Linked DNA regions of Homo sapiens: region 2 is linked to region 1. The links come from fine-mapping of genetic effects on gene expression. A gene starts in region 1. The other region holds a variant in brackets. All regions are shown on one strand. Distances are between the middles of the regions. Region 1 holds the start of COMMD7 (COMM domain containing 7). Region 2 overlaps COMMD7 (COMM domain containing 7).

The links. PIP is the estimated chance that this variant, and not a neighbour inherited with it, causes the effect. A credible set is the group of variants that fine-mapping cannot tell apart.
Region 2: its variant is the best candidate, but not a certain one, in a credible set for the expression of COMMD7 in thyroid (GTEx, PIP 0.70).

What each region holds. Positions count from the first base shown.
Region 1 is chr20:32,741,336-32,746,855 of GRCh38, forward strand. It overlaps COMMD7 (COMM domain containing 7), which reads right to left and starts at 2,132. Exons shown (of 9, transcript NM_053041.3): 1 at 1,973-2,132. The coding sequence starts at 2,056. RefSeq lists enhancers at 1-298, 968-1,795, 2,683-3,627, 5,516-5,520 and silencers at 749-923, 1,908-1,977, 2,158-2,387.
Region 2 is chr20:32,708,791-32,713,790 of GRCh38, forward strand. All of the region lies in intron 3 of COMMD7 (COMM domain containing 7), which reads right to left. Among named protein-coding and RNA genes, the nearest start is that of COMMD7, 32 kb to the right of the region's middle. RefSeq lists an enhancer at 72-578 and a silencer at 2,597-2,891. The variant G/A (reference allele first, on the strand shown) is at 2,267.

The DNA of each region.
Region 1 (5,520 bases):
GCCTCCCAAGTAGCTGGGACTACTGTGGTAGCTGTGCCACCGTACCCAACTAGAAAGTTGTTTTTTTTTTTTTGAGATGAAGTCTCACTCTATTGCCCAGGCTGGAATGCAGTGGTGCAATCGCAGCTTACTGCAACCTCCACCTCTCAGGTTCAGGCGATTCTCCTGCCTTAGCCTCCAGAGTAGCCGGGACTACAAGTGCCCGCCACTACACCCAGCTAATTTTTGTATTTTTAGTAGAGACAGGGTTTCATCATGTTGGCCAGGATGGTCTCGATCTCCTGACCTTGTGATCCGCCCACCTTGGCCTCCCAAAGTCCTAGGGTAGGTGTGAGCCACCGTGCCCGGCCTATTTTTTATCTTTTATACTGTATTTGTACTGTACCTTTTCTATTTAGATTTGTCTAAACACACAAATATTTACCATTATAGTCCAGTTGCCTATGGTATTCAGTACAGTCACATGCTGTATAGGTTTGTAGCCTAGGAGCAATGCGCTATACCATATATCCTAGGGTGCAGTAGGTTTGTGTAAATAAACTCTAGGATGCTTGCATAAGATAAACTCAGGGCTGGGCACAGTGGCTCACGCCTGTAATCCCAACACTCTGGGAGGCTGAGGTGGGCAGATCACCTGAGGTCAGGTGTTCAAGACCAGCCTGGCCAACATGGTCAAACCCCATCTCTACTAAAAATACAAAAATTAGCTGGGCATGGTGGCGTGTGCCTGTAGTCCCAGTTACTCGGGAGACTGAGACAGAGAACTGGTTGAACCTGGGAGGCGGAGGTTGCAGTGACCCGAGATCGCGCCACTGCACTCCAGCCTGGGTGACAGAATGAGACTACGTCTCAAAAAAAAAAAATTAATTTCCATTTCTATTTAATTTTTAAATGTGGCTACTACAAAATGCAAAGTTAGAAATGTGGCTTGCAAATTTTTCTATTGCATAGCTCAAGCTTAGAACCTTCCTGTCGTTACAAGTTCTAAGTTTGGTTTTTATCTCGCAAGCAGCACTACTGTGTGGGAAGTTGTGGGGGGTATGGAGATGAAAGAAGAGGGGCGCTACCTCCTGGGAAGTGACAACCTAGCGGGGGAAATAGATGTATCTTCCCAGTGGGGGTGAGAAGTGTCATTCTCACCTATTTCAGCAGCCTTGGTGGTATGAAAAGGCATCCCAACCAGCACAGAAGCAGGATGCCTCCAAGACTGCCTTGGTTGGCACCTGCAGCCTGAAGGGGGAGAAAAAGGCTTTGCTAGCTCCCCTACCATCGAGGATGAAGACCCCCACTGTACACAGTGTATAAGGTTTCTTTCCATGTGAATCCCAGTGACTCTCCTTAACTGGGTGGAGGTGGAAGGTGTCATCAGCCTTGTCCCAGATCGAGCCCCTCAGGCCCACAGAGCCCCAGTGGGGCCTGGCTATTACTGACACTCATGTCACACTGAGATGTAAGACGGCAGCCCAGGCCAAGCTTCCCCGGGCCCCCTCAGATTCTCGGGCCCTCCCACTCCCCTCAGGCTTCCTCGGCCTCCCTGCCAAACATCTATCTCCCTTTGGACCCCACTGCTCCCCAAAACTCCCCACGCCCTTAGTCTGTTCCTTCAGTTCCCCAAACTCCTTCAGCCTCATCTAGACTCCCCTCCGTCCCTCTTCTAGGACCCCAAAAGCTCTCCTCGGCCCCAGGACCCCGCAGAGGTCCCGTAGTCCCATCTCTGAGACCCCACAAAGCCTTTCGGACCCCTCAGGTGGCCCTTAGGCCTCCGGAGATCCCTTGGCTCCCCACACTCTCCTCAGACCCCAGCTCACCTTAGCCTCGCCCCGAACCCACCTCACACACCCCAAACGCCCACAAGACGCCGCTCTGTCTAGTCTCTCCCAACTCCCGCGCACCCCCGGACGTCCCCCCCACCCCAGGCCCGGATCCTGGAATCACCTGGGCCCCGCGCCCCACGCCCCGCCGCCGGGCCCACCTGCGCGCCCAGCTGGTTCAGCTGCTGCATGTCGCCGCCCACGGCCTCCGGCACCGGGTCCTCAGTGCAGTGCAGGCGGCCCATGGCGCGCGCCCCAGCCCCGCAGGTTCCACCGCCGCCGCCGCCCTGCTCAGCTTCCTCCTCCGCTGCCGCTGCCACCGCTGCCGGCCTCTCCGCGCATCCACAACCGCACTTTCGCCACGGCCGTCGCAGCGCACTCCTCCCCCGGCCGCCCTGGGCTGTCCGGAGCCGGGGAGCCCTCGCAGGGCCGCGGACACGCGCGGCCGCCGGGCTCCGGGGAGGGGCAGGGGCGGCGCCGGCACCGGCAGACGCGAGGTTTCCTGCCAGCTCTCCCGCTGAGTGACCTTTGGGTACGGCGCTTGGCCTCTCTGAACCTCAGTTTCACCATCTGAGAAAATGATGGCTGGGGTAGCTCCTTAAATGAGTTAAGCCTCCAGAAATGTTTAACGCAGAGACCGGCACACAAGAGGTCTTCAATCAATGGCTAGCTGCTATTATCATCATCACTGTTACTATGCACTCCAGAGATATTTATGGCAGCCTACTCGATGCCAGACACTGGGGACAGGGAAGGGAACAAAGCAGGCCAGAGTGTCTCTCGGAGAGCTGACATCAGAGTAGAGACTAGGTCTCAACCTTGGAAGGGCATCAGCATCACCCCAGCATCACCTGGTATTGCCGGGCCCCGCCCCCAGAGGATCTGATTCGAAAGGCCAGGGTGGAGCCTGAGAATTTGCATTTCCAATAAGCACCCAGGGACTACACTTTGAGACCTTCTGGAGTGGAAGAAACTGACTTACCAAAGTTTCCTCAAAATAGTGCGAGGGCTTTGACTGTGCGGGGCAGGGAGGGTGGTGGTGAGGTGGGTGAGGGGAGGTTACTGAGACCGTGATCATCACTGCAGCCCCTCAAACACTCTAACCCCCATGCCCTCTCTTCCCAGGGGCTCCTCACAGTTCCCAGGTGAATATTACCCTAATCCCCACTGGAAACATGAGAAAATAGAGACATGCTACCCAGAATCTAGGAACTGAACGCCAAGCCTAAGGGCTTCACCTAGCCCCTAAGTCCAGCCTTGAGGGTAAAGAGGTAATGCCGAGAAACCTGGAGCAGGGAAATGTGGGGGGTTTGGCTGGCCTTCCTCACCAGCCCTCCTCCTCTCCTCTACCCTTTCCTGAAAATCCCTTCTGTAAAAGTATAAACAAAATGTCTTCTACCCGGCCCGGCGCGGTGGCTCACTCCTGTAATCCCAGCACTTTGGGAGGCTGAGGCGGGCGGATCACTTGAGGTCAGGAGTTTGAGACCAGCCTCAACATGGAGAAACTCCGTCTCTACTAAAAATACAAAATTAGCCGGGCGTAGTGGTGCATGTCTGTAATCTCAGCTACTCGGGAGGCTGAGGCAGGAGAATTCCCTGAACCCGGGAGGCATAGGTTGCGGTAAGCCGAGATCGCGCCATTGCACTCCAGCCTGGGCAACAAGAGCGAAACTCCGTCTCAAAGAAAAAACAAAAAAGTCTTCTACCCAAAGGCCAAGCCCATCCCCTTCAGTCATTATATCATTCATACATTCATTCAACAAATATTGAGTGGCACATGCCTGTGGTCCCAGCTACTCGGAGGCTGAGGCAAGAGGATCACTTGAGATCTTGAGATCGAGACTGCAGTGAACCCAGATGGCGCCACTGCACTCCAGCCTGGGCGACAGAGCAAGACCACATCTCCATAAAAAAAAAAGAAGGTCTGCTGTGAGGCAGATACCATGACATGATAGGGGGTGGGGATTCCACAGTGACACAACCAGATGAACCAGATGCAGTGCCTGGCCTCTGAGAAGTCAGAATTGACCCAGGGGGCAGACGCAAGTGTGTGTGAAAGTATTAAGGGATGCCAAAAAGTAGGAGGTGCTTTGAGAATGTGTACAGGACACAGTCCGAGTTTGGAGTACCTGGAAGAGAATAAACCTTCGGGTGACAAACAGACAGGAACTCAGAGGCCCTACTCACCGTGCAAGAATTTTTTTTTTTTTTTTTTTTGAGACAGATTCTGGCTCTGTCACCCAGGCTGGAGTGCAGTGGCACAATCTCGGCTCACTGCAATTTCTGCTTCCCGGGTTCTAGTGATTCTCCAGCCTCAGCCTCCCGAATAGCTGGGAATGCAGGTGGCCACCACCAAACCCAGCTAACTTTTGTCTTTTTTTTTTTTTTTTGGAAACGGAGTTTTGCTCTTTTTGTCCAGGCTGGAGTGCAATGGCGAGATCTCGGCTCACTGCAACCTCCGCCTCCCGGGTTCAAGTGATTCTCCTGTCTCAGCCTCCCAAGTAGCTGGGATTACAGGCATGTGCCACCACCCCGGCTAATTTTGTACTTTTAGTAGAGACGGGTTTCTCCATGTTGGTCAGGCTGGTCTTGAACTCCCCACCTCAGGTGATCCGCCTGCCTCGGCCTCCCAAAGTGCTGGGTTTACAGGCGCGAGCCACCGCACCTGGCCCAACTTTTGTCTTCTTACTAGAGATGGGTTTTCACCGCATTGGCCAGGCTGGTCTCATACTCCTGACCTCAAGTGATCCACCTGCGTCAGCCTCCCAAAGTGCTGGCATTACAGGCGTGAGCCACTGCACCTGGCCCGGAATTTTTATTTTTAAATATTTTTAACCTTGTTAAAAAAGAAGATCTGGGCTGGGCGCAGTGACGCATGCCTGTAATCCTAGCACTCTGGGAGGCTGAGGCCGGTGGATCACCTGAGGTCCGGAGTTCAAGACCAGCCTAGCCAACATAGTGAAACCCTGGTTCTACTAAAAATACAAAAATTAGCCGGGCATGGTGGTTCATGCCTGTAATCCCGGCTACTCTAGAGGCTGAGGCAGGAAAATCGCTTGAACCCAGTAGGCAGAGATTGCAGTGAGCCGAAATCCCACCACTGCACTCCAGCCTGAGCGACAGAGCAAGACTCTGTTCAAAAATAAATAAATAAATAGTTGGGGGAAAAAAAAAAGAAGATCCCCATCAGGGCATTACATTTCTTCATATCTTTAAGTGTTAAATCAACTGTTTAGGTATAAAAAATAAAATGAACCTGTTTTAAGTTTTGTTTTGTTTTTAACATCCTGGAGAAAACCACTGGATTTCTTTTCATTTCTGCTTCCACAGTGACTGGTGCTGAGTCACTTGATAAATACTGTATTTGTGGAACGGAATTAGCTCATGTGACAGAAAATACAGAAAAGGAAAGGAATTCACTTGAAACTGACACCCAATACTATAGGAATATGGTGACTCTTCTTTTCCAGTCTTTTTTTTTTTTTTTGAGACGGAGTCTCTCTCTGTCGCCCAGGCTGGAGTGCAGTGGTGCTATCTCGGCTCACTGCAAGCTCCGCCTCCCGGGTTCACGCCATTCTCCGGCCTCAGCCTCCCGAGTAGCTGGGACTACAGGTGCCCGCTATCACGCTTGGCTAATTTTTTGTATTTTTAGTAGAGACGGGGTTTCACCGTGTTAGCCAGGATGGTCTCCATCTCCTGACCTCGTGAT
Region 2 (5,000 bases), 33 kb before region 1:
CCTCCCACATAGCTGGGACTACAGGCGTGTGCCATGATGCCCAGCTAATTTTTTGAATTTTTGTAGGGACAGGGTCTTGCCATGTTGCCCAGGCTGGTCTCAAACTCCTGACCTCAAGCAATCCACCCACCTTGGCCTCCCAAAGTGCTGGGATTACAGACATGAGCCACCATGCCCAGCTATTATTTTAACTTAGTTTACCAGGAAACATTAAGCATTTTTGGGAGAAAATTTGGCAAATGCAGATAGTCAAGAATTGCACTGCCAAGAATTCACCCAACCAAGCTGCACCCAAAAGCACGCTGAGATATACAGGGGAAGCTCTTTAGCAATGTGGATAGTAGGGATGAAAGGTCATGGAGAGACCAGGCACGGTGGCTCATGCCTGTAATGCCAGCACTTTGGGAGGCTGAGGGGGTGGATCACTTGAGGTCAGTAGTTCGAGACCAGCCTGGCCAACGTGGCAAAACCCCGTCTCTACTAAAAGTACAAAAATTAGCCGGGTGTGGTGGCATGCGCCTGTAGTCCCAGCTACTTGGGAGGCTGAGGGTGCAGTGAGCAGAGACGGCACCACTGCATTACAGCCTGGCAACAGAGCAACTCTGTCTCAAAAAAAAAAAAAAACAGGCTGGGCGCCTGTTACAAAATTAGCCAGGAGGGTGAGGCAGGAGAATCATCTGAGCCTGGCAGGTGGAGGTTGCCGTGAGCCGAGATCTGCCACTGCACTCAAGCCTGGGCGACAGAGCGAGACTCCGTCTCAAAAACAAACGATGACAAAAACAACAAACAAAAACCTCAGGTCAGACCATGCTATTTTTTCTGCTCAAAACCCTCTACTATCTCCTATTTCACTCACAGTAAAATCCAAAGGTTGTACAACACCCTGCATGCTCTGGCCTCCTCTTAGAACCCCTAGGCTCTCTCCCTTGCTTACTGTGCTATTTTTAGAATATGCCAGACAGCTTTCTACCCCTGGCCATTTGCCCTTGCAGTTCTCTGCACATAGCTCATCCCTTCGCTTCATTCAGGGTTCTGCCTGACTCTTACCTCCTCAGAAAGGATCCCCGACCATTCTATTTCACATTTTTTCTTTTTTTACTTTTTTTTTTTTTTAATCTCATTCTGTCACCCAGGCTGGAGTGCGGTGGTGTAATCACGGCTCATTACAGCCTTGACCTCCTGGGCTTAATGGATCCTCCCACCTCAGGCTCCTAAGTAGCTGGGACTACAGGCATGCTCCACAATGCTTGACTAATTTTTAATTTTTTTTTCTAGAGATAGAGTCTCACTATCTTGCCAGCTCAAACTCCCGCACTCAAGCAATACTCCCACCTTGGCCTCTCAAAATGCTGGGATTACAGGCATGAGCTGCCAATCCCAGCCTCATTCTAATTTAAATAGCACTGCCCTTTACTCATACTCGTATAATGCTGTGGGATATTCTGCATTGCATTTATAACTACCCAACTTTATGTTATATATTTATTATCAATTTTTCCACTAGAACACCAGCTTGATAAGAACAAAGACTAGGCTCATTTTGCCTACTGCTGTGTCCCAAGCTCTGAGAGAAATGCCTGGCAAAGTTTATTGGTTGGCACTCAATAAAAGCACGTTGAATGCAAGAATCCTTACAATGGATTGCTATCCAGGCTTAAAAAAAATTATGTAAGGCCAAGTGCTGTCATCCCAGCACTTTGGGAGGCTGAGGTGGGAGGATACCTGAGCCCAGGGGTTCAAGACCAGTCTGGGCAATACAGGGAGACCCCATCTCTACAAAATAAAAAAATTAGCAAGGTATAGTGGCACAGGCCTGTGGTCCCAGCTACTCAGGAGGCTGAGGTGGGAGGATGGCTTGAGCCCAGGAGGTTGAGGCTACAGTGAACCATAATTGCATCACTGCACTCCAGCCTATGTAACAGGGTGAGACCTCATCTCAAAAAAAAAAAAAAAAAAAATAGATGTAGCTCAGTAGCTGTTGATGGACCAATCTGCATAATATAATGTCAAGAAAAAAAGGAAAGGCACCTATAATCCCAGCACTTTGGGAAGCTGAGGTGAGAGGATTGCTTGAGGCTAGGAATTTGAGACTAGCCTGGGCATCATAGCAAAACCCTGCCTCTACAAAAATAAAAATAAAAAATTACTTGGGTGTGGAGGTGCACACCTGTAATCCAGCTGCTCAGGAGGCTAAAATAGGAGGATCGCTTGAGCCCAGAAGTTTGAGGCTGCAGTGAGCCATGATGGCACCACTTCACTCCAGCCT[G/A]GGTGACAGAGCAAGACTCTATCTCTAAAAATAAATAAATAAAAATAAGTGTTACTTTGGCCGGGGGTGGTGGCTCACGCCCATAATCCCAGCACTTTGGGAGGCTGAGGCGGGTGGATCACTTGAGGTCAGGAGTTTGAGACCAGCCTGGTCAACGTGGTGAAACCCCGTCTCCACTAAAAATACAAAAATTAGCTGGGCGTGGTGGCACACGCCTGTAGTCCCAGCTACTTGGGAGGCTGAGGTAGGAGAATCGCTTAAACCTGGGAGGCAGAGGTTGCAGTGAGCCGAGATCACACCACTGCACTCCAGCCTGGACGACGGAGTGAGACTCTGTCTAAAAAAAAAAAATGTTACTTAAAAAAAAAAAAAAAAGGAAACAGTTAAAGGAACAAGGCCACAACAGTCAGCAACTGACAGAGCCAAGTGGCTTATAGGCCAGAGGGTCCCCACACCAAGTTCTTTCTACACCAGGTCATTCTCAGACGCTATCTTGGTGCTGCGGTATCAGGCAATGCCTTGACAGTTGCTGACAATGAAGTCAACAAAGCTGCAGGGATGGAAGAGCAAGCTCTCCATCCTGAAGTTACCTCTGGAGGGCAGAGGCCAGACTTGAAACATGGATTGGCATCATGCTAGGCCTCAAGCTCTTAACTTCTTTTTCAGCTTTTTCCTGTGGTGATTCCTTTGTCCTAAGCAAATGCCAGCCACAAGACAGACCTGCAACATTTGACCTTATGTCAGACAGAATGAAAATTGTGTGGGGCCTCTTGGAGGGTGGGGTGGGGGGAGGGATAGCATTAGGAAAAATAGTTATTCCATGCTGGGCTTAATACTTAGGTGATGGGCTGGGCGTGGTGGCTCGTGCCTGTAATCCCAGCACTTTCGGAGGCCGAGGCGGGTGGATCACAAGGTCAAGAGATCGAGACTGAGGGCTGGGCACGATGGCTCATGCCTGTAATCCCAGCACTTTGGGAGTCCGAGGTGGGCAGATCATGAGGTCAGGAGTTCGAGACCAGCCTGACCAACATGATGAAACCCCATCTCTACTAAAAATACAAAAATTAGCCGGGCGTGGTGGCAGGCGCCTGTAATCCCAGCTACTCAGGAGGCTGAGACAGGAGAATTGCTTGCACCCGGGAGGCAGAGGTTGCAGTGAGCCGAGATCGTGCCATTGCACTCCAGCCTGGGCCACAGAGCAAGACTCCGTCTCAAAAAAAAAAAAAAAAAAAAAAAAAGAGAGAGATCGAGACCATCCTGGACAATGTAGTGAAACTCCGTATCTACTAAAAAGTATAAAAATTAGCTGGGCATGGTGGCATGCATCTGTAGTCCCAGCTACTTAGGAGGCTGAGGCAGGAGAATTGCTTGAACCCAGGAGGCAGAGGTTGAAGTGAGCCAAGATCGCGCCACTGCACTCTAGCCTGGTGACAGAGCAAGATTCCGTCTCAAATTAAAAAAAAAAAAACCTAGGTGATGGGTTGACAGGTGCAGCAAACCACCATGGCATACTATGTAACAAATCTGCACACCCTGCACATGTACCCCAGACCTTTAAAAAAAAAAAAAAGAAAATTGTGTAAACTCCAACAGCTGCAGTCAGCAGAACATGACACGTGGGGAAATTTAAGAACATCCTTCTTCAAACACAGATAACTTTGAGATGGTCCCTTTTTTTTTTTTGACACGGAGACTTTTTTTTTTTTTTTTTTCGAGACAGAGTCTCACTCTGTCCCCCAGACTGGAATGCAGTGGTGCAATCTTGGCTCACTGCAACCTCTGCCTCCCAGGTTCAAGTGATTCTCCTGCCTCACCCTCCCAAGCAGCTGGGACTATAGGCACGCACCACCATGCCCGGCTAATTTTTTGTATTTTTAGTAGAGACCAGGATGGTCTCGATCTCCTGACCTCGTGATCCGCCTGCCTTGGCTTCCCAAAGTGCTGGGATTACAGGCGTGAGCCACTGTGCCCGTCCTCTTTCTTTTTTAATTTCTTTTTTTTTTTTTTTTGAGACAGAGTTTCACTTTTGTTGCCCAGGCTGGAGCACAATGGTGCAATCTCAGCTCACTGCAACCTCCGCCTCCCAGGTGCAAGAGATTCTCCTGTCTCAGCCTCCCAAGTAGCTGGGATTACAGGCATGTGCCACCATGCCTGGCTATTTTTTTTTGTATTTAGTAGAGATGGGCTTTCACCACGTTAGTCAGGCTGGTTGTGAACTCCTGACCTCAGGTGATCCACCCGCCTCGGCTTCCTAAAGTGCTGGGACTACAGGCGTGCGCCAATGCGCCTGGCAACAGGCACCAATTTTCACCAGAACTGCTGCCTTAGCCAAACCCTCAAAGCTGTCAAACAATATGAAGGACAAAACAAAGGGAAGTGAGGGTGACGACTTCAGTTTTGCCAAGACGGTTGGAAAAACAGCAAACATTGTTCTTATTCAGTGTACAAATGGGAGCCCAAGGAATGGACACAGGCTTGGTGAAAACTCCTGGAAGCAGATGGGAGAGGATGGAGAGCTGCTTTCATCCAGTCAGTACTGACCCTGAAGGCTGACCAGCTGAAGCCACCCTGTGAGGCTCACAGAGAACAGAGGTCCGTAGTCACACACGCACATTTACTGAGCACTGCCATGTGCCTGCACTGTGCTAGATGCTGGGAAACATCAATGAACTGAACAGACAACAATCTCTGCCCTTATGAGGCTTCCATTCTACTGGCAGGAGAAAGACCACAG